4 linked regions of the Homo sapiens genome follow. The protein of the gene in region 3 interacts with the protein of the main gene of each other region in a pairwise test. Each region holds a gene or a part of one and is shown on either strand. Other genes may lie near its edges.

What was found.
Region 1: the proteins of NCK2 (region 3) and WASF1 interact in binary tests that used the Homo sapiens proteins (3 or more experiments, as listed by UniProt).
Region 2: the proteins of NCK2 (region 3) and CBARP interact in binary tests that used the Homo sapiens proteins (3 or more experiments, as listed by UniProt).
Region 4: the proteins of NCK2 (region 3) and ZC2HC1B interact in binary tests that used the Homo sapiens proteins (3 or more experiments, as listed by UniProt).

Annotation. Positions count from the first base shown.
Region 1 is NC_000006.12:110,120,133-110,125,349, forward strand, and holds part of WASF1 (actin-binding protein WASF1), read right to left. Parts: intron 1-5,217.
Region 2 is NC_000019.10:1,230,968-1,236,184, reverse strand, and holds part of CBARP (voltage-dependent calcium channel beta subunit-associated regulatory protein), read left to right. Parts: intron 1-63; coding exon of another isoform or gene 64-84; coding exon 85-189; intron 190-266; coding exon 267-406; intron 407-619; coding exon 620-684; intron 685-794; exon of another isoform or gene 795-873; intron 874-1,039; coding exon 1,040-1,184; intron 1,185-1,442; coding exon 1,443-1,614; intron 1,615-1,853; coding exon 1,854-1,994; intron 1,995-2,548; coding exon 2,549-2,759; intron 2,760-4,909; coding exon 4,910-5,084; coding exon of another isoform or gene 5,085-5,217. UniProt on the Homo sapiens protein: Negatively regulates voltage-gated calcium channels by preventing the interaction between their alpha and beta subunits. Thereby, negatively regulates calcium channels activity at the plasma membrane and indirectly inhibits calcium-regulated exocytosis.
Region 3 is NC_000002.12:105,886,719-105,892,220, forward strand, and holds part of NCK2 (cytoplasmic protein NCK2), read left to right. Parts: intron 1-5,502. UniProt on the Homo sapiens protein: Adapter protein which associates with tyrosine-phosphorylated growth factor receptors or their cellular substrates. Maintains low levels of EIF2S1 phosphorylation by promoting its dephosphorylation by PP1.
Region 4 is NC_000006.12:143,932,795-143,938,011, reverse strand, and holds part of ZC2HC1B (zinc finger C2HC domain-containing protein 1B), read right to left. Parts: intron 364-5,217; coding exon 293-363; 3' UTR 279-292; intron 1-278.

The DNA of each region.
Region 1 (5,217 bases), on a different chromosome or scaffold from region 3:
GACAATGATGCCGTCTCTCACCACTCCTATTCAACACAGTGTTGGAAGGCTAGAGCAATCAGGCAAGAAGAGAAAGAAATAAAGGGTATTCAATTAGGAAAAGGGGAAGTCAAATTGTCTCTTGTTTTCAGATGACATGATTGTATATTTAGAAAACCCCATTGTCTCAGCTCAAAATCTCCTTAAGCTGATACGCAACTTCAGCGAAGTCTCAGGATACAAAATCAATGTGCAAAAATCACAAGCATTCTTATACACCAATAACAGACAAACAGCCAAATCATGAGTGAACTCCCATTCACAATTACTACAAAGAGAATAAAATACCTAGGAATCCAACTTACAAGGGATGTGAAGGACCTCTTCAAGGAGAACTACAAACCACTGCTCAACGAAATAAAAGAGGACACAAACAAATGGAAGAACATTCCATGTTCATGGATAGGAAGAATCAATACCGTGAAAATGGCCATACTACCCAAGGTAATTTATAGATTCAATGCTATCCCCATCAAGCTACCAATGACTTTCTTCACAGAATTGGAAAAAACTACTTTAAAGTTCATATGGAACAAAAAAAGAGCCTGCATAGCCAAGACAATCCTAAGCCAAAAGAACAAAGCTGGAGGCATCACGCTACATGACTTCAAACTACACTACAAGGCTACAGTAACCAAAACAGCATGGTACTGGTACCAAAACAGAGATATAGACCAATGGAACAGAACAGAGCCCTCAGAAATAACACCACACATCTACAACCATCTGATCTTTGACAAACCTGACAAAAACAAGAAATGGGGAAAGGATTCCCTATTTAATAAATGGTGCTGGGAAAACTGGCTAGCCATATGAAGAAAGCTGAAACTAGATCCCTTCTTTACACCGTATACAAAAATTAACTCAAGATGGATTAAAGATTTAAATGTAAGACCTAACACCATAAAAACCCTAGAAGAAAACCTAGGCAATACCATTCAGGACATAGGCATGGGCAAACACTTCATGACTAAAACACCAAAAGCAATGGCAAGAAAGCCAAAATAGACACATGGGATCTAAATAAACTAAAGAGCCTCTGCACAGCAAAAGCAACTACCATCAGAGTGAACAGGCAACCTACAGAATGGGAGAAAATCCTTGCAATCTACCCATCTGACAAAGGCTTAATATCCAGAATCTACAAAGAACTTAAACAAATTTATAAGAAAAAAAACAACCCGATCAAAAAGTGGACAAAGGATATGAACAGGCACTTCCCAAAAGAAGACATTTACACAGCCAACAGACATATGAAAAAATGCTCATCATCCCTGGTCATCAGAGAAATGCAAATCAAAACCACAAGGAGATACCATCTCATGCCAGTTAGAATGGTGATCATTAAAAAGTCAGGAAACAACAGATGCTGGAGAGGATGTGGAGAAATAGGAACACTTTTACACTATTGGTGAGAGTGTAAGTCAGTTCAACCATTGTGGAAGACAGTGTGGCAATTCCTCAAGGATCTAGAACTAGAAATACCATTTGATCCAGCGATCCCATTACTGGGTACATACCCAAAGGATTATAAATCATGCTACTATAAAGACAAATGCACATGTATGTTTATTGTGGCACTATTTACAATAGTAAAGACTTGGAACCAACCCAAATGTCCATCAATGATAGACTGGATTAAGAAAATGTGGTACATATACACCATGGAATACTATGTAGCCATAAAAAAGGATGAGTTCATGTCCTTTGCAGGGACATGTATAAAGCTGGAAACCATCATTCTAAAAAAACTATCACAAGGTTGGAAAACCAAACACCAGATGTTCTCACTCCTAGGTGGGAATTGAACAACATGAACACATGGACACATGGTGGGGAACATCACATACCCGGGTCTGTCGGAGGGTCGGGGGCTGGGGGAGGGATAGCATTAGGAAAAAATACCTAATGTAAATGACGAGTTGATGGGTGCAGCAAACCACCATGGCACATGTATACCTATGTAACAAACCTGCACACTATGCACATGTACCATAGAACTTAAAGTATCATAATAAATAAGAAAGAAAGTAAAGAAGCAGATCTCCGATTTTAAAAAATGGAATCCAAAAAAAAAAAAAAGAAGACATAGAAGAAGTGGTGTCAGAAAACAAATTGACATTAGAGAATCTGGCAAAAGCGTTCCAATTATTCAAGACTACTTTTGATTTATTTTACAACGTGAACCCTTCTATGATACAGTACCAAAACTAAAGCAAATAAAAGGAGGATTGGTACCATATAAAAACATTTTTAGAGAAATGAAGAAGCAAAAAAGTCAGAAATCAAGATGTGTTTTTGTAAAGTTACACCAGTGTGCCCACCTCTACTACTTCTACCTCCTCCACCTCTCTGCCTCTGCTACTCCTGAGACAGCAAGACAAACTCCTCCTTTTCCTTCTCCTCTTTGGTCTGCTCAATGTGAAGATAACGAGGATGAAGACTTTTATGATGATCCACTTCCAATTAATGAACAGTAAGTATATTTTTTCTTATGGTTTTCTTAATAACATATTCTTTTCTCTAGCTTACCTTATTGTAGGAATACAGTATACTACTACACATACAACATAAAATATACATGTTAAGCAACAGTTTATGTTCTCGGTAAGGCTTCTGGTCAATAGTAGGCTATAGGCAGTTAAGTTTTGGGGGAGTCAAAAGTTATATGCAAATTTCTGGCTTCACTGAGGATCTGTGCCCCTTACCCCTACACTGTTCAAGGGCCAACTGTATTTTAAACTTTAAACCCTATCTAAAGTCACCCAGCCATGACAAAGTGGGGAAAAAAAAAGAGATACCCTGGGAAGCCTGCTTTTAAACCTTGTTCTACTACTTTCTGTTAAATGATTTGTGTCTAAAATGGAAATTACTTGCTTTATCTATATCTGTCCACCTGATGAGGGTTAGAGAAGATTATGATGTAAAGGTATATGCAAATAATATGCCTGTCAATCTGAAAGCATTTATATGTAGACTGTAGCATTTATATATAATCAGCATTTATATATAATCAGCATTTATATTAGCTAGAAATAAATTTTAGGCCAAGTAGCAGAACCCAAGATTCATCAAAGACCTAGAAGATTATCTGTCCCAGGGATGCCCAAGATATAGATTCAGAAATTTAGGAGATCTTTTACACCCTCTTGTTACAACTTCTGAAAAAAAAAAATCATAAATCTAAAATCACTGTATTCCTCTAGTTGTGTAAGTTCTTATTACTGAAAAGAGTAAGCCAAAATAACTTGAAGAAGATCCCTGCCATTACTGAATTTTGAGCAGAGGGAGAACCAGACATTTAAGCAAATATTTAAAGCAATTTAATAGATAAGTCCTAATATTTGTTCTATTCACTGTGAGACCTTGGTATCAATTTCCTTATCTGTAAAATAGGAATAAAAACATCTGTCTCTAAAAGAAGCAAGAAAAGAGCCTTGAAGTGCACCTCATACAGAGGAGCCCAATAACAGGCAGCTCTTAATATAAGGTAAGAGCAACACAGCAGAGATAGAAGCACCTCACTTTCAGGTGTCAAAAGTTATTTGGTGATCAAGATACTTCCAGAGACAGTTTCTCTGGCAGATAAGGGAAGCATCCCAAATGGAAGAAAAAGCAGGTATAAAGTTACTCATTTATTCAACAATTGGTAGGGATACAAATGCTAGGTGTAGATACAGAGATGGAAAAGACTAATCTTGGCAATAAGAACTGACTATATTCCATAAGAGAAAAGCCAGGGGAAGAGATCCCTTAGGTATTCAGAATCCCAGTGGTTGTTAATGAAAGGAGTTAGCTAGCTTGCTTTAGGCAGACAGTAAGGGAAGGGTCCCCAGAGAACCTCTGACCCACCCCACAAGGGCTTACACCAGATGCTTTGTGCAGATAAGGGAACTTGCACAGGGGGCTTGCTTAAACATGCCCACAGCAGACTAAGGGCCTGCATGTGCACTAGGGAAATGTGGTGAAGCCACCAGTAATCTGTGCCTCATACAAATAGGGAACCCAGCCCCATCAGCGTCTCTCTCTCTCTCTCTCTCTCTCTCCTCTCTCTCCTCTCTCTCCTCTCTCTCTCTCTCTCTCTCTCTCTCTCTCTCTCTCTCTATATATATATATATATATATATATATATATATATGCCCTTGTATTCAACTGTGACGGGGCAACCTGGAACCTGCTTTCAGGACCCCTCTCTTGGCTGAGAGCTTTCCTTTCACTTAATAAATTCTACTCCATTCACTCTTAGAGTATCTGTGTGCCTAATTCTTCCTCATCGTGAGACAAGAACCTGGACCTAGCTCAGCTAAGGAGTAAAAAACCTTGCATCATTAAGAAAGCAATAAAATGAGAAAGAGGAAATTGATATAAAGTGAATTATAGGTTTGTGGTAATTACCTAATACAAAACAGAATTATGTTCTACTAGGAAAAATCTCACAAAAAACAGATGTACTGGCTGGGTATGGTGGCTCACACCTGTAATCCCAGCACTTTGGGAGGCCGAGGCGGGTGGATCACTTGAGGCCAGAAGTTCAAGGCCAGCCTGGCCAACATGGCAAAACCCCATTTCTACTAAAAATAATACAAAAATTAGCCAGGCATGATGGCACTCGCCTGTAATCCCAGCGGCTTTGGTGGCTGAGGTACAAGAATTGCTTGAACCTGGGAGGTGGAGTTTGTAGTGAGCCAAGATCGCACCACTGCACTCCAGCCTGGGTGACAGAGCAAGACTCTGTTTCAAAAAAATAAAAAAAGGAAGTACATTTTTGTGAGGAAAAGGTCAGGAAGATATCCAGCCCTGAGCCATGTGGATCCCTGCAGTTTACTTTCATTGCTATATTCTCAAGCACTTTCAGTACTAATAATAGCACCAAAGTGAAAATCTCCATTATCTAGAAACATTTTGGATAGCCAAGTTTTCTAAGTAATTCAGATTTTATTATCTAATACATCAATTGTTATTTTAACTATTTTCGATGGAAACTTGTGAAATGTATTCTAAGCTTCCCTCTTCTTAAATGGAATATAAAATTAAACATAATTTAATTTTTTCTTAGGGACTCACGGGCATGAATTATGAAAATCAAATATTATCCTAGGCCAGAAAACAGCCTTGAAATGTATAAGGATATTTGCTTTACATTAAATGGCTTCTTTCCAGTTTTTATGTTGCATCTTC
Region 2 (5,217 bases), on a different chromosome or scaffold from region 3:
TCTGCAGTGGCTCCTGCAGGAGAAGTAGGTCTAGCTGGAGCTGACCAGGCTTCCTCCCCACAGGGCCCTCCTCCCCAGTTCAGAATGCAGCCCACAGCCACCATGGCCACAGCCGCCACCACCACCACCACCACCACTGCCACAGTAGCCCTGACGACGTCGTGGGACAATGCCACTGGACGCCCCACGGTGGGTGCAGGGGACAGGTGGGAGGGGCAGGAGGTCGTCCAGGCCAGCAGCACCTGACCCCCCCTGCACACCCGCAGGCAGAGCCAGACCCCATCCTGGACAACTACGTGCTGCTGGTGGTGGTGATGTCGCTGTTCGTGGGGGGCACGCTGGTGGTGTTGTCTGGCGTCCTGCTCCTCTGCAAGCGCTGCTGGGACGTCCACCAGCGCCTCAACAGGTGCGAGGCCCCCACCTCGGCTGGGCAGGTGCATGGTGGTTGTGGGTGCCATCGGGTGGTGGGGGGTCTACCTCACTGGCTTCTGAGTCACAGGGTGGGCTATGCCTCTGGAGACTGGGTGATGCGCAGGGCTTGGCTTGGGGCAAAGAGCCGAGACCCACTGTGGCTATCTGGGCCCTCCGTGCCACTGGGCTCTCCCAACGTCTCTCCCAGGGCCATGGAGGAAGCGGAGAAGACCACCACCACCTACCTGGACAACGGCACCCACCCAGCCCAAGGTGAGGTGCTGGCCAGCCTGGCTGTGCGCTCGCCTGTCCATCCGCCCCTCGGCCACCCGCCGCCCCCTCGGGCTGCCTGACCGTCTGTGTCTGTCTGTCTCCCCCACCAGACTGGGCGCAGCTCGATTCCGACTCATCTCTGTTTCCTTAACGCCCAGGCGTAGGTGGGCCCAGGCGCGTGCTGAGCGAGTGAGTGTGTGAGCGGATGGACGAGTGTCCCTCGCCCCGCCAGCCCGGCCGCCCGTGCCGCGGCCCCAGCCCTCCCTGCCGTGGCCGCCCGGAGGAGCAGCCCTCCCGGGACCAGGCGCCTGGCGTGGCCCGCCCGGGGCCCACCCTCTCCTGCCTCTCCACGCAGACCCCGACTTCCGGGGAGAGGACCCCGAGTGCCAGGATGCGGAGACCGAACGCTTCCTGTCCACCAGCTCCACGGGCCGCCGGGTCTCCTTCAATGAGGCGGCGCTGTTTGAGCAGAGCCGCAAGACGCAGGACAAGGGTCGCCGGTAAGCGGGGCGGCGTTGGGAGGCACCCCAGGGCCTGTCTGAGGTCCTGGCCGCCGGGACGGGGGAGGAGCTGGGTGCGGAGGCTGCAGGGACCAAGGCAGAGGCTCCTGGACTGGGACCGTGGGGTGGGGCGGCCTTGGCCAGTTGCCCCCCTTTCGCCTGCCCCTGCCCAGGCCGGCAGGGTGGATGGCAGAGCACGGCAGCTGGGGCATCGGGCATGGGAGGTGGGCGGGCTCTGATGGCCAGATGCTGTCGCAGGTACACACTGACGGAGGGGGACTTCCACCACCTGAAGAATGCCCGGCTCACGCACCTGCACCTGCCGCCCCTCAAGATTGTCACCATCCACGAGTGTGACTCAGGCGAGGCCAGCTCAGCCACCACGCCCCACCCGGCCACCTCTCCCAAGGCCACTCTGGCCATCTTCCAGGTGAGCCTATGGGCAGCAGCCCCGGTTCCTCGGGGGACGGGAGGCAGCCCCGGGGACTCCCGGACCCCCACGCCCTCACCCACTCTTTTTCTGGGTGGCCCTCATCTCGGGATGGGCGGGGTGGGGTGGAGCAGGGCAGGGGGCCAAGCCCAGCATGCTCCTCACCTGCCCATGTCCCTCACCCACCCATGCTCTTTGACCTGTCACTGCTTCCTCCCCCACCTGGCTCTGTCCCACAGCCCCCGGGGAAGGCCCTCACCGGCCGCTCTGTGGGCCCCAGCTCCGCCCTGCCAGGTGACCCCTACAACTCAGCCGCGGGCGCCACTGACTTCGCAGAGATCAGCCCCTCGGCATCTAGCGACTCTGGGGAAGGCACCTCGGTGAGGGCCCCTGCGTGTCCCCCATGGTGTCCACAGCCGGGGAGGCTCCTTCCCCTCCCTGTCCCCAGTCCAGGACCAAGGTCAACCTATGACCTGCCAGCCACCGCAGCCCTCCTTGGCCCGCCGGGTCATTGCACACGGGAGAAAGAGGGAGCCGGCCGCACACCGGACACAGGCGTGTCCTCACACATGCAGGGGGCACCCCAGGCTCCCACCTCATTTGACATTCCCTAGGTTCTGGAGAGGGTGCGCCACCCCTGCCCTCCCTCACCTGCAGCCCACGCCGTGGGCGAGAGACCTTCTAGACACGCACCTCCTTTTCTCTCCAAACCCCATATCCAGGGACCTTCCCCAGAGGGCAGAGCACCTTAGTGTAGCCCACCCAGCCACTGAGCGCCCCTCCTCCCGCTTCTGCCCCTCTCCGAGCAGGTACCCCTCTCTGTCCCAGTGATGGGGGGCCCTTGGGACTGTCTCTCAGACCTACGGCCACCTGGGGCCAGCACACGGGCCCAGGAAGAAGTCTTAGCCTGAGCGCCATCTCTGTTCCCTGCCAGTTGGATGCCGGTACCAGGAGCACCAAGGCTGGAGGGCCCGGGGCTGCAGCAGGGCCTGGGGAGGCGGGCCCGGGATCCGGGGCAGGTACCGTTCTGCAGTTCCTCACCCGCCTGCGCCGCCATGCCAGCCTGGATGGGGCCAGCCCCTATTTCAAGGTCAAGAAGTGGAAGCTGGAGCCCAGCCAGCGGGCAGCCAGTCTGGACACGAGAGGTGAGCTGTAGCACCTGGTGGAGAGTGGGCCCCTGTGGGCTGGGTGCTGGCTGCCAGGGGCTGCCCTGGACATCCAGGAGCAGGAGGTTGTGGGCTGGGTGGGGAGCCGGTGCTCTGGGGCTGAGTCCTGCCCAGTCTGCCAGCGGGCGTGCTGCCTGAGGTTCTGCAGGTGGCTGGGAGGGCTGAGTGTGCGGGCGGCCTGAGCCAGACCCACCCAGCTCCGGGAACCTGTGCGGGAAGGCTTTGCGCGCCCCGACTGCTCTCGGGCCATTGGGGCATCCAGGATGAGGTGGTAAAGGAGGGTGTCGGGGGCCACCTGGTCACTGTGGAGCGCAGAGGGTGGGGCCTGTGGCCTGCATCCCCTCCCAGCCATGCTCGGCTCTCATCCCTGGGAATGTGAGTGGAAGGCGGGTTCCCCCGGGGCCCCTCCCTCGCCCGCTGGCAGACCATCAGCTGCTGTGTGACCTTGGCCGAGGCCCTCTGCCTGTCTGGGCTCTGACTTCCTCTAACACGAAGTAAGTGTTGGACTGGGCCAGGGGTCAGCAGACTTTTCCCATCAGGCCCCGGATGGTGGTGTTCGTGGGGTTATGGTCAGAGAGGCTGTGTCTCCACAACTCTGCTGCTGTTGAGGCGAGGAAGCAGTCAGAGGCGCTGCATGACGAATGCACGTGGCTGTGTGCCAGTAAAACTTACCGAAGCTCCGGGGCAGGGGGTGCTTTTGCCCTCTGGGCTGTAGCACATAGATCCCTGGACTGTTTGACAGTAGCCCTTCAATTCTGCAGGCCTTGGGTCAGGCAGGATCCTGGAGACAGGGCTGCCTTATCTGGGCTCGAGGCAGGAGTTTGTGTGGGGAGCAGAGGTGTCCCATCTGTAGCACTGGCAGCAGGCACCAGCCCTGCTCAGCCAGCTCAGCAGGGCCAGGGCAGCCCAGAGGGGCTGGGGCCCGCTCTGCCTTGTGGACAGGGTGGCAGGTCCTGTCGTCAGGTGAGGCCAGGATAGGGGACAAGTGCAGAGAGAAGGTGCTGTCAGCATGACAGAGGACACATCATCAGACAGTGGGAGACCCTGTGTTGTGGCTCCAGCCAGCGGGGGTGGGGTGAGTTCTCCCAGCCCCCACCCCCAAGGTAGCTAGGGGCCAGGGAGGGGAAGGCCTCCTCTGGCTGCCCCGCTCCAGCTGAGAGAATCCAGATCTTGAAATGAATGGGGCCCAGGGGTGACTAGAGACATTTAGAGTCCAATGTGGTTGCAGCACATCCCAGAACCTGTTTGCTGGGGCCTGCCCACTCAAGCTTTGCTGGGGAGGCTGTTGGGAGAAGGGGGCCGAGGCAGGGGTGGGGCAGTCCCCCAGCGCTCTCCAGACCAGGGTGGAGCTGGCAGGAGAGGGCACCTCTCTCCCTCTCCTCGTTGGCCCCCACCAGCCTGTATGTGACTCTCTCATGCCTTCCGTAGTTTCAGCCAGGCTGTGCAGGCCACCAGGTGTCCAGGACACGCCCTTATGAGTGGCCACATGTTGACCAGGGCTGCCACAAGGCACTATCGGTGCCAGAGGCCCTTCCACTCACTCGCTTCCTGGCCCTGCCCTGCTCAGGCTCTCTGGTCCCAGCACCTCTTCCCTCCGTGCCTCAGTTTTCTCACCTGTACTCCAGGGTGTACACACAGCCACTGTCCGCACCCACCTGACCCGGGGAGATGCCAGCCAGGGTCTGGCCCAAGCCAGGGCCCACTCCTGTGTGTGTGAGACAGAGACAGGGCACACGCGTTGTGTGTGTGTGGGGGCCACAGGTGTTCTGTGTGTAGGAGGGTACAGGCATTCTGTGGGGGGGGCACAGGCATGGGGGGTGCACAGGCGTTCTGTGGGGGGGGCACAGGCGTGTGTGTGTGAGGGGGCCACAGGCGTTCTGTGGTGGGGGGCACAGGCGTTCTATGTGTGTGTATGGGGGCCACAGGCGTTCTGTGTGTGGGGGGGGCCCAGGCGTTGTATGTGTGGGGGGCACACGTTGTGTGTGTGTGGTGGGGGTCCACAGGCGTTGTGTGTGGCGGGGGGGCACAGGCATTGTGTGTGTGTGGCGGGGGGGCATAGGCATTCTGTGTGTGTGTGGAGCGGGTGGAGGCACATGCCGGCTGACGCTTACGGCACATCCCGTGCGCAGGTTCCCCCAAGCGGCACCACTTCCAGCGGCAGCGGGCAGCCAGTGAGAGCACGGAGCAGGAGGAGGGGGATGCCCCCCAGGAGGACTTCATCCAGTACATTGCCCGGGCGGGCGACGCCGTGGCCTTCCCGCACCCCCGCCCCTTTCTGGCCAGCCCGCCCCCTGCTCTCGGCAGGTATTTTTCAGTAGATGGAGGTGCTAGGGGTGGACCTGTGGGCCCTTGCCCCCCTTCGCCCCCCCCTAGGCGGCCCAGGGAGCGCTCTCCAGGCCCCGTGGACACGCGCTCGCCTGCCTCCAGCGGCAAGGCC
Region 3 (5,502 bases):
CTACAGGTCTATATGGTGAGGTATTACATGTGACTTTAGGAAATACATTTGGGGATAGGGAGGGCTAACCACACACATGCATACTAACTGGAAAGTGGACAGGGAACGCTCCGTTTGCCTAGATTAGGTAGATGGGACTTGGACAGCTGCTCTGTAGTTGATGATTGACTTTTCATTTATGTAAATAAGATTACTTCCAAAGTTAATGAGATGAATATTTGAACATGTCAGTGTGGATTGGCTTCAGGCCTGTGGAGTAAATATTTTATAGAGTGAACATTGATAGGAGAATAGGAAAAGCTGGTGAGACTCTTCACACTTGGGGCAAGGAAGAGATAATCTGATGTAAAAACAAAGAACATAGGGTCAACTGACAGCTAGCAGCATAAGTATAGGCAGGAGTAATTTTTATTAAAAGAAGGCTACCTTAGACAACTAGGGCAGGTGACCAAATAGAATGGTAAAACTGAAAGGCAGTTTTTCTGAGATAAAAACAGAGAAACTATTAATCAGTGGATCACGATTTGCCTCTAACCCATTTGTTCTCACTTTTGGGAGGTAAATGAACCACTTCTGTGGACAGAAGAGTGCCTTCTGTAAAGAAGTAAAAGGGGAAAAACATGTCTTTACCAAAAGAAAAGAATGATACAACTTGTGATAAGAAACCAACAGGGTGACCTCTCTCTGGGGGTAGAAGGAGATGTGTAGATTATTGATGCTTGGAGACTTCAGCGTGGCTGGAGATCAGTCCAGGGTCTGTGTGGAAGGCCTGGTGAATCACACAAAGGGCATTTCTACCCTCATCATTTCATAAAGTCCAAAGTGAAAGATAAGGAGAAGTTTTAAGGTTTAAAGAACCAAAAGTACCTGGAGCAAGGCCCCTCCCTCCCGTTTCCTCATGACTATTGTGCTTAGAAGAAAATCGCATTAATACATAAGCTTTCAGGAATGGAGGAGGAAATAAAGGATATTAAAGTCTGTCCTCGGCATTCATTTTTTTCCTTCTATGAGAAAACAATGATTAAATCTTGAGAGAGGGAGAGGCGTATCTGATCAGGACATCTGTTTTATAAAACTGCAAAGGTGCTTTTCAGCAAGTATTTGAGGCAATGGATCAAGCTGGCAAAGCCATAGAGATGGGATCAAAGAGTGTGCTCTCTACTGTTCTTTTCTAAAAGTACCCACTTATCGCGAGCACAAATTGCAAAGAGATGAGGTGTAAGAATTACCTAAAGGAATGAATAATGGAAGAGGTAGTCAAAATTAGAAATTTTTAAGTCTGCACGTTTGTTGAACACCAGATACTCTGAGCCCGGTGTGGGGATGTGGAGCTAAATAGGGTTCTTGCACTTAGTTGTATTCAAACACAGAATCTAAAGCCTAAACAAAAATAATGATGATAGAGGCCCCGAGAGAGGTTGGTTTTCCGCCAACCTATTAATTGTCCTTAGATTCCACTTGGAAAATGACTTCTGAAAAGAAGGGTCAAATGAATGGGTTGTACTAATTGTTCATTCTCCAGAACCATTGATTCAAAAACTATGAGAATGGAAAAATCATTCCTTATAAGGAGTACTCATAGAAGGACATAACAGGAAGAAGTGGTCTGATGTTTGAAAATTTGAAGAATTTGCCCAGTAGTCAGCACAGAGAAATTACTATATACCAAGTAAGTACAGTGTTTGGAGATGGAAAGTGTAGGAAATGCGGACAGTGGGAGGTAGCACAAAGGTGGCAATTAAAGAGGAGAAATCAAAGGGGAGATGTTTCAAAACCCGGGGACTGAGTCTAGTTAGGTTTTAGTCCAATCATAGAAAATTGTAATGAGTGTCCTGTCCATCTATGATGGCTTAAAAAGATGTCCATAAATTCTTTGGTACTCTTTGCTTCAGAAGGTGGAGCCTGACCCTCTTCCCTTCAGCATGGGCTGCACTGAGCAACTCACTTCTAATGACCAAGATGTGGCAGAAGCGATGGAGGGCAGCTTCCGAGATGGGCATTGTGGCTGCCTCTTTGCTCTCTCTTGGGTCACTTGATCTAGGGTGAGCCAGCTGTCATGTTGAGAGTACATTCAGGCAGCCCTACAGAGCCCCCTAGGGGTTCATGTGAGCAGACTGCCTTGGAAGTAGAGCCTGCATCCCCAGTCTAGCCTTCAGATGACTGCAGCCTCAGCCAGCATCCTGACTGCATGTTTCAAAAATGTGTTAAGATTCTTTGACAAGCTTAAATGTAGAGTACTCTACCATACTATCAGTACTCTAGTACTTGTTGAGGAGCAAGTGTGGCATGGTCCTTTTTCATCCAATTTCTTGAAATCTGTTCTAGAAAGCCAACCGTGGAAGGACTGCAACAGATGAGAATAGGACTGATGGAGTTGCTTTCATGGGAATCATTCCCTGGCTCCCTCTGGAGGCAGAGTTGTTTTGGGTCGGGAGTAACTCCATCTCCATCAGATGCAGGGACTGGTGGCTCACTTTGAAAGGAGGAGACCATACAGCAGTGTCCCAGCTGTCCCTTCAGGGGAAATTCCCTATGAGAGATGTCTGGAGCAGAGCCAGAGTCCTCAGGACAGAATTGGAAAAGTATCCACAGACTGGAGCTCCCTCCATCATGGGCTGCTTTGCCCATAAATGGCATTCCCATCTTTTTCTGGTGACCAAACATTTGTTGGTGGCTCCAGCACTGCCGATGTTTGTTCCAGATTTTCTTTCTTCCAGTTCTCAAACTGCATCAGAGTCCCCTGAAGGGCTTATTAAAACACACGGTGCTGGAGGTTAAAACACAGATGGCTGGGCTCCACCCCAGAATTTCTGCTACAGCAGGGTTGAGGCAGAGCCTGAGAATTTGCATTTCTTTTTTTTTTTTTTTTTTTTTAATTATTTTGAGATAGGGTCTCACTCTGTCATCTAGGCTGGAGTGCAGTGGCCCTGTCATACCTCACTGTTGCCTTGACCTCCCGGGCTCAAGTGATCCTCCCACCCTGGCCTCCCAAGTAGCTGGGACCACAGGTATGCATCACCACACCTGGCTAATTATTTTAAATTTTATGTAGAGATAGGGTCCCACTATGTTGCCCAGGCTGATCTCAAAGTCCTGGCCTCAAGTAATCCTGCCACCATGGCATCCCAAAGGGCAGGGATTACAGGTGTGAGCTTCCATGGCTGGCCCTTGAGAATATGCTTCCTAACCAGTTCTCAGAGGATGCTCATGCTGCTGGTCTTGAGAGCACACTTGGAGAACATCTTAACTAGTTCATCTTCACACTTCACTTAGAGGTGTTCAGTGGTCATATGTAACGGTGTATGTTAGTATACAGATTGTTCTTTTTCAGATTTCCTACAGAAAATCTACTTAGTTTAAATTAAAGAACACTCCCCAACTTTTAGCACTCCTGCTTGGCATAAATTGGTTCTACATCCTTAACTTTTAAAGGTTTCTGCTCAGGAGCCCACGAAATTAAAAATTACCTCTTCTGCTGCGAAAATTTTATTGCTGCAACTCATGCATGCATACAGGCACACACACACCATGATGTTAAATTAAGGAGCTTGAATTAAAAGCAAATTTCCCTTATGTAGAAAGTCATCTGTTGATCATTTGGCTTAATTAAAATTGGGTGTATCTTACATCTACCATGATTCACTCCCATACTGCCTCCACTAAAAATGATGCCACATTATCTCTAAATTGAGCCTGGCTTATAGTAAACTCTATAAGTGAGACTGCCCTTCATCTTTTCCTAAAGATACAACTTCTAGTACAGAATATTAATCATCTATAGGCTGAGGCCTAATCTGAGATTAACCTTCTGGTTTCTTCCTGGAGTTTCATCCAGGAGTATGCCCTGGGCCTCACATGGGGATGAGATGGGGCTTTTCGCCTCAAAGGTTTGTTCTTATTTGGTCTATTTGAGACAGAGGCATGCATAAATACAAACTATACTTACAATTGTTCCTTTCATTCTTTTCTGTTAACAGCTATGGCTGCTGGGTGAGCCCAGCTGCCTTGCACAATTTGAGTCTTCTCAGACACTCATTCCCCTGAGTTGTCATTGGTAGAAATGGAGTGATTCCTTGTTTTGCAAGGGTTGCACACTTCTCATCAAACATTTATTTGGGCTTTTGTGAACTCTGTAATAGACAATGGCCTAGTCCTTTGTTAACTGTCTGGAGGTCCTGCTGGGAGGTCGCAGAGCAGGGCTGAGCTGCTGGACCCTCAGAGCAGGAAGTTTCTGGGCTTTGAGAAAAGCAGAAAACTGGTCTGGGAATTCCAGGAAGAATTTCGGATGTTAGGCTGTGGTCCTGCCACTGGCCAGGCATGTCCGAGGTACCAGCCCTGCCTCGGAGAGCACATGCTCAGCTCCACATTGTCCAGAGGGCTCTCCTGCCCCCACACGCACTTATACATTCACACAGATGAACTCACACGCTACGCATACTCTCACACACTCTCAATACTCACATACTCCCTCTCACATCTGCGCACGCTCACACACTTAGAGCTGCGGTATCTCATGCTCCTCTTTCATGCAACTCTTTTTTTTGTTTGTTTTCTTTTTTTTTTTCATAGAACTTACTGCCCTGTGCAGCCATCTGTACACCTCTATTTATCTGTTCCCCACACCAGATTGTCACAGAGCATATGTCCTGCATGCACACACATGTATCCAGGGCACCGCCTGCCTGGCATGTGTTAGTAACTAATTGTTATTCATTTAATGAATTGATCAAAACTTGATATTTTTGTACAAAGAACATTTATCGTTCAGTATCTTCTTTCCTGCATGCTTTTCAGCAAATGAGATAAAAGACCAATTTTTTTTTTTTTTTTTTTTTTTTTTTTTTTTTTTTGAGATTTTTCGCTCTTGTTGCCCAGACCAGAGTGCAGTGGCGTGATCTCAGCTTACAACTTCCACCTCCCAGGTTCAAGCGATTCTCCTGCCTCAGCCTCCCAAGTAGCTGGGATTACAGGCACACTACCACCATGCCTGGCTAATTTTGTATTTTTTAGCAGAGATGAGGTTTCACCATGTTGGCCAGGCTGGTCTCAAAGTCCTGACCACAGGTGATCCACCTGCCTTGGCCTCCCAAAGTGCTGAGATTACAGGCGTGAGCTACTGCACCTGGCCAATAAAAGACACATTTTAATTAAAATAATGACATGTTTCTAAAATATTCTGAAATAGAAGGCACATCACAGAATTTAAATATTTTTCAATAAAATCTGTAATCAAACCATAGTTCAGCTTCCTCTGGGATATTGTGAACTATGTTTAAAATGCGACCGGAATTTTCCACTGCTGTTCATATTTTTAAATGCTTAGAATTAGAAAAATTAGCCAGGCATGGTGGCACATCGGGAGGCTGAGGCAGGAGAATCTGCTTGAACCTGGGAGGCGCAGGTTGCAGTGAGCCAAGATCACACCATTGCACTCTAGCCTGGGCAACAAAAGCAAAACTGCGTCTCAAAAAAAAAAAGAATTAGAAAAATTTTGATGTCTTA
Region 4 (5,217 bases), on a different chromosome or scaffold from region 3:
TGTGAGGGTAAGGTGCTTAGAAAAAGGGAAAAGGCAGTAACCTTTCAGGTCAAAAGTGAGGGATCATTCCCCTTTCCTATTAAGTCATGAATCAAAAACTGAATATCCTCTTTAAACTGTATGTTTAACAGCAGAGTCAGTTTCAAGAGCATACATTTTGTTAACCCAACTTGGAGTTTGTCCAGATGTCTCTTCAGTTTGCTTACTATGCATCCATTCTCTTAAAAGTCATTAACTGGTCAGCAACAGCTGGATTAGCGGTGATTTTTTTTTCTTACCTGGCTTCTAGGAGTTAATCTTTTTTAGAAGATTTACTAAATCCTTGTCTGAGTTTTGCTCCAGAAGCAGGGTCCATAGCTAATCCTTTGCAAACATAAACAGATTTGTTATTATGTCAAAGCAGAACATTACCAAGAAAAAAAGACATGATTGTGAAATCCCCACATGGGTTCAAAAGTTTCTATTCTTCCTTTTTTTTGGTGGGAGGTGGGGGAGTGTGGTGGGGAGGGCAATGAGGGTGGGGTAGCTACAGACAAATAACCAAATAAGGAAAACAGGGGCTACCTCAGGTGCCTTCTTTCCTCTGCCCCTAACCTCTGTTTATTCATGGACTTTGGACTGCACCTCAAGTGACCCACCCTTTATACACTAGGACTTTCGACATCCCCTCCGCTATTGCCCCAGCTTTCAAAATGGACCCTGATATTTTGGATCTTCAAATTATTTGCTAGCTCTCACATGAGAAGACTTTGCTAAGCCTTACGGAAGCATAAGCTGCCTTCCCTGCTTAGGGTTATCTACGTGACAATGGATTCATTCCACAAACAGTATTCTTTTCCCTTGAGCCCAGCAGTGTTGTTAGGTATGGAGATACACAAGTTTATGGATATGGGCACACCACACCATGGCTTAGTTTTGACCACATCGTAGGGGACAGGATTCTCAGAGGTTCTTTTTTTTGTTAAAAAATAAAAAAGGAACAAGTCCCCTCTGTCCTAAGAAGCCTCCTTTCTACTCAGTGTTTTATGAAGGAGCAATAACAAGGAAATTGTGAATCAAACTCTCAAAGGACATAGGAATAGAAAGAGCTTTCAGTGTTAGTTTTACTGAAACATAAACTGGTTTTACTTCTGCCAAAGAATCCACAACTGTGATGCTCAACAGGTTTGCTACACAACTAAATTAGGTAAAGAATGGAATGCTAGTGCAGGTAAAATGCTTAACTTGATAAAAATCCACTGGCTCCAGAAGTAAAGTAGAGCCCACACCAGCAAAGCTGTACAAATGCAATCCACTACTAAATATACAAAGCAATGCAGGTCTAGATCCCAGAACTACATGCTCATAGTGACATTAGTCTCTGTACGAAGATCTCAGAGAAGCAGCTTCTTGGCAGTACCTTCCAGTATATCCATCATTCATATAACAAAAGCCTCCAGAAAACAGCCATCAGTACATATTTGCTGACTAGGCTATACACTCATTCCCCATCTGAACATTAGAATCTTTTAGGAATGCGAGAAGAGCCACTTCTTTTTCTAAAATAATTTCCAAATATGTATCAATAGCCTTAATATTTATATTTTTGGACCCATTTTTCCCAAAACGTACAAAGCTCTGCTCCTTCCTATTAAATAGCTTGCCCATGTTGCTTAACCTCTCTGTGCTTTCCTCATCTGTAAAATAGAGATATGAATAGTACATCGACCTCCTCACGCTATTGTGAGAATTAAATGAGTTCATACGCCAGTTGCTTAACTGGCATGGTAACTTCACTTAATACCAGGTGCTCTTTTTGTATTAGAAGTTTTCCTGTGCATGCTATGTCTTCTCATAAGACTCTGGGATCAATAAGGCTGTTGACTTGTACACACATGTGTCTCCTCTGGTATGAATTTTAAAACTGTTATATGTGGGAGGTACAAGATACTAAATGCTTATTTTACTCAAGAGAGTTGAAGGATGAAAGCCCGAGTTTTAGGAGGCTAACTGCTATCTAGATGAAAGACAACAACTAGATTTATAATATATGATACCATAAGTAGATATTACTTAAAAAAGAAGACAGGGGCAGTGGCTCACACCTGTAATGCCAATACTTTGAGAGGCCAAGGCAGGAGGATTGCTTGAGCCTAGGAGTTCAAGACCAGTCTGGGAAACATAATACCTCACCTCTACAAATAAAAAAAATTATCTGGGTATGGTGGTACATGCCTGTCATCCCATATACTCAGGAGGCTGAGGTGAGAGGGTCACTTGTACCCAGGAAGTCAAGGCTGTAGAGAGCTTTGATCAAGCTACTGCACTATAGCCTGGGCGACAGAGAGATCCTGTCTCAAAAAAAAAAAAAAAAAAAAAAAAAAAAGAGTGATACCAAGTGGCCTAAACTACTGATTGTCAATCTGAATATATTAATAGCAATAACAAAAAACCCAACAACAACAATTTTTAAAGACCTTTATTTTTATATAGCATTGTATAATGAAAAGAAAAAAAAAGACCCTTATGAGCTGCCCTGACCCCTGCCACAGAAACCCATGCAAACCCTCACTGGGCCTGAGGACAGGGCCACCCACCCTGCTGGCACCAATGGACACTGACTGGGAGCCTGGAGATTGAGCAGCCCTGACCATCACAGCCTGTGCTTGTGCCCACCATTGGGAAGCTGATGACAGGCTTGACCCATGTGGTGTCATGCCCACCAGTGCTTCTGTGCATTGTTGGGGCCTGGGGATCAACCCACCCTGCCTGTGGTCAGCTCACCCTGCCTGTGGTCAGCTTCTACCCACCCCTACCAGGTGCCTGAGGGTGAGTCTGCTCAGCCTATTGGTACCTGCATACATCATCCATGGACTTGGAGATTGACCCACCACCACCAGCATCTGCAGCGTCCACATACTCCTCCTAGGGGACTAAGGATGGGGCCGCCCAGCTCACTACTGCCACCACTAGTACCCTATGGATACTGCCTAGGAGCCAGAGGGTTGGTCTACCACCATCAATGTTATTGGCAACCCCATGCATGCCACCCAGGAACCTGAAGAGCCACCCACCATCGCCACTGCTGGCACCTGAGCAAGCCATCTGGAGGTCCAAAGATTGGTCTGCCTGGACCTGCTAACACCAGTGCCCACGTATGCTACCTGGGGTCCCAAGGACAGGCAGGCTCAGTCTACTGCTGCCACCACTGAGGCCTGAAGACCAGCTCACCTTGTGTCCCCATCCCCAGCAAAGCCTCACCACAGCTTCCAATAACAACTGCAGTTTAAGTCACTAAGGAATTCATAGACACCACTGATAGTAATTACAGCCAAAAAATCATGGACACGCAATTACTGTATGCTCCAGTATCAAAGCTAAAGTGCCCTACCCAACTATCACTATAGATACATATGTAGGAAGAAGTCTTTCCTATGAAGGCCAATTCAAAAATTGGAAGAAGTGACTGTTACACCAGATGCAGAGATATTGGCATAGGAACACAAGAAACATAAAAATGCAAGAAAATATGACTCCTCCAAAGGAATACAATTCTCCAGCAACAGATTGCAACAAAAAAATTGATGAAATGCCAGAAAAGGAATTCAAAATCATAATATTAAAAAAGCATATTGAAAGAGAGGGAAGATGGCAGATAGGGGACAGGGCTGATAAGTAGCTCCCACTTGGATGGACAGAACAGCGTGTGGACACTCACTCTGTGGTCGTTTGCTCCAGGAACAACTGCAGGAGCATACCAGGAAAAACAAAAGAAATCACAGATCCTTTGAAAGAAGTGGCAGGCTATTGCAAATTCTGCAAGACAGGTGAAAATTCGTAAGTTCCCAAAGTCTGAGAGGGGACACATCTGCTTCCAAGCACACGTCCCCACTGAGGAACCTGAAAAATCCAGATTACGGGAGAAGAATTTAGCCTTACCTAGAGCTGAAATTGATTTGCTGTGAAATGTAAAAGTAGAAGCAGCAGTGGGACAAGCCTTGTAGGCAGTCCCATTCTCCAGCTCAAGCCCAGGGAAGCCATCCCTGACTCTATCTCACAAGAGCCCTCGGGGAAGGCAACTGGCAGAATTTGAGAGGGGTCACAGGGTGAAAGAAGCTTCCAACTGAACTTTGTAATAATTTTGACTGGGTGCAAACCCTCTTGAGAAGAATCTGGGGGCAAACAGGAACTGTTGCAGAAAGCACAGTGGAGATGCGGCTGACAGTGTGGCAGATTGGCAAAGGTGTGGCCTGAAAGCAGTGCTTGCTTCCTCAGTGGGGAAACTTAGAGCCTGGGACTAGATCTGAGTCCCAGGCTGCAGGCTGCCTAGAGATAAACTTGGCACGGTTAGCAGGGCACGGTGGGAGTGAGACTGGCCTTGCCAACTGTGTGGGAGCTGGGTGAGGCCTGTTGCTACCAGCTTTCGCCCACTTCCCTGGTGACAGAGGCAGCCATAATTCCCTCTGGAACATAACTCCATTGGCCCAAGAACCATCCCCTGATCTCCCCACAGTGGCCACAGCAACCCCCACCCAAGGAGAGTCTGAGCTCAAACCTACCTAATCCTGCCTGCACCTGATAGTATTTCTCTACCCGGTCCAATAGTGAATCACAAAAGACATAAACTCTTGGGAGCTTTATGATCCCATCCATCACCTGAGAAGCCTGAATACTTGTCCTGGCCAAATTAGAGCAAGCTTATATCCCCCTCTACTATTGCAGCTGGCTGGCGCACTCTCAAAAGCACCACCTCCTGGCTCAAGGTTAACCAACTCAGAACATTATAGCAACTCATAACAGAACAACCCTGCTCTAATGAAGGAAAAAACAGCAGCTAATTCCACTGCCTGAAACATCCTGGCTAACCAGTGGTCCCGAGTCTGTCCACATGACAACTTCGCTGCTAGCATAACCAGCATTCAAGAAAGACAACACAGTAAACATATTTACAACCAAGGACTCTCACAGAGTCTACCTGACTCCCCTGCCACCTCCATCAGAACAGGTGCTGGTATCCACGGCTGGTAGACCCGAAGACAAATTGCATCACAGGACTCGGCAGACATTCCCCAGAACCAGCCAATAGCCTGGTAGCCCTGCTGAGTGGCTAGACCTAGAATAGCAAGAACAATCACCACAATCTGGCTCCTAGGGAAAGGGGGAGGGTACCACATCAAGGGTTCACCCTGTGGGACAAAAGAATCTGAACAGCTGCCCTTGAGTTCCAGATTTTTCCAC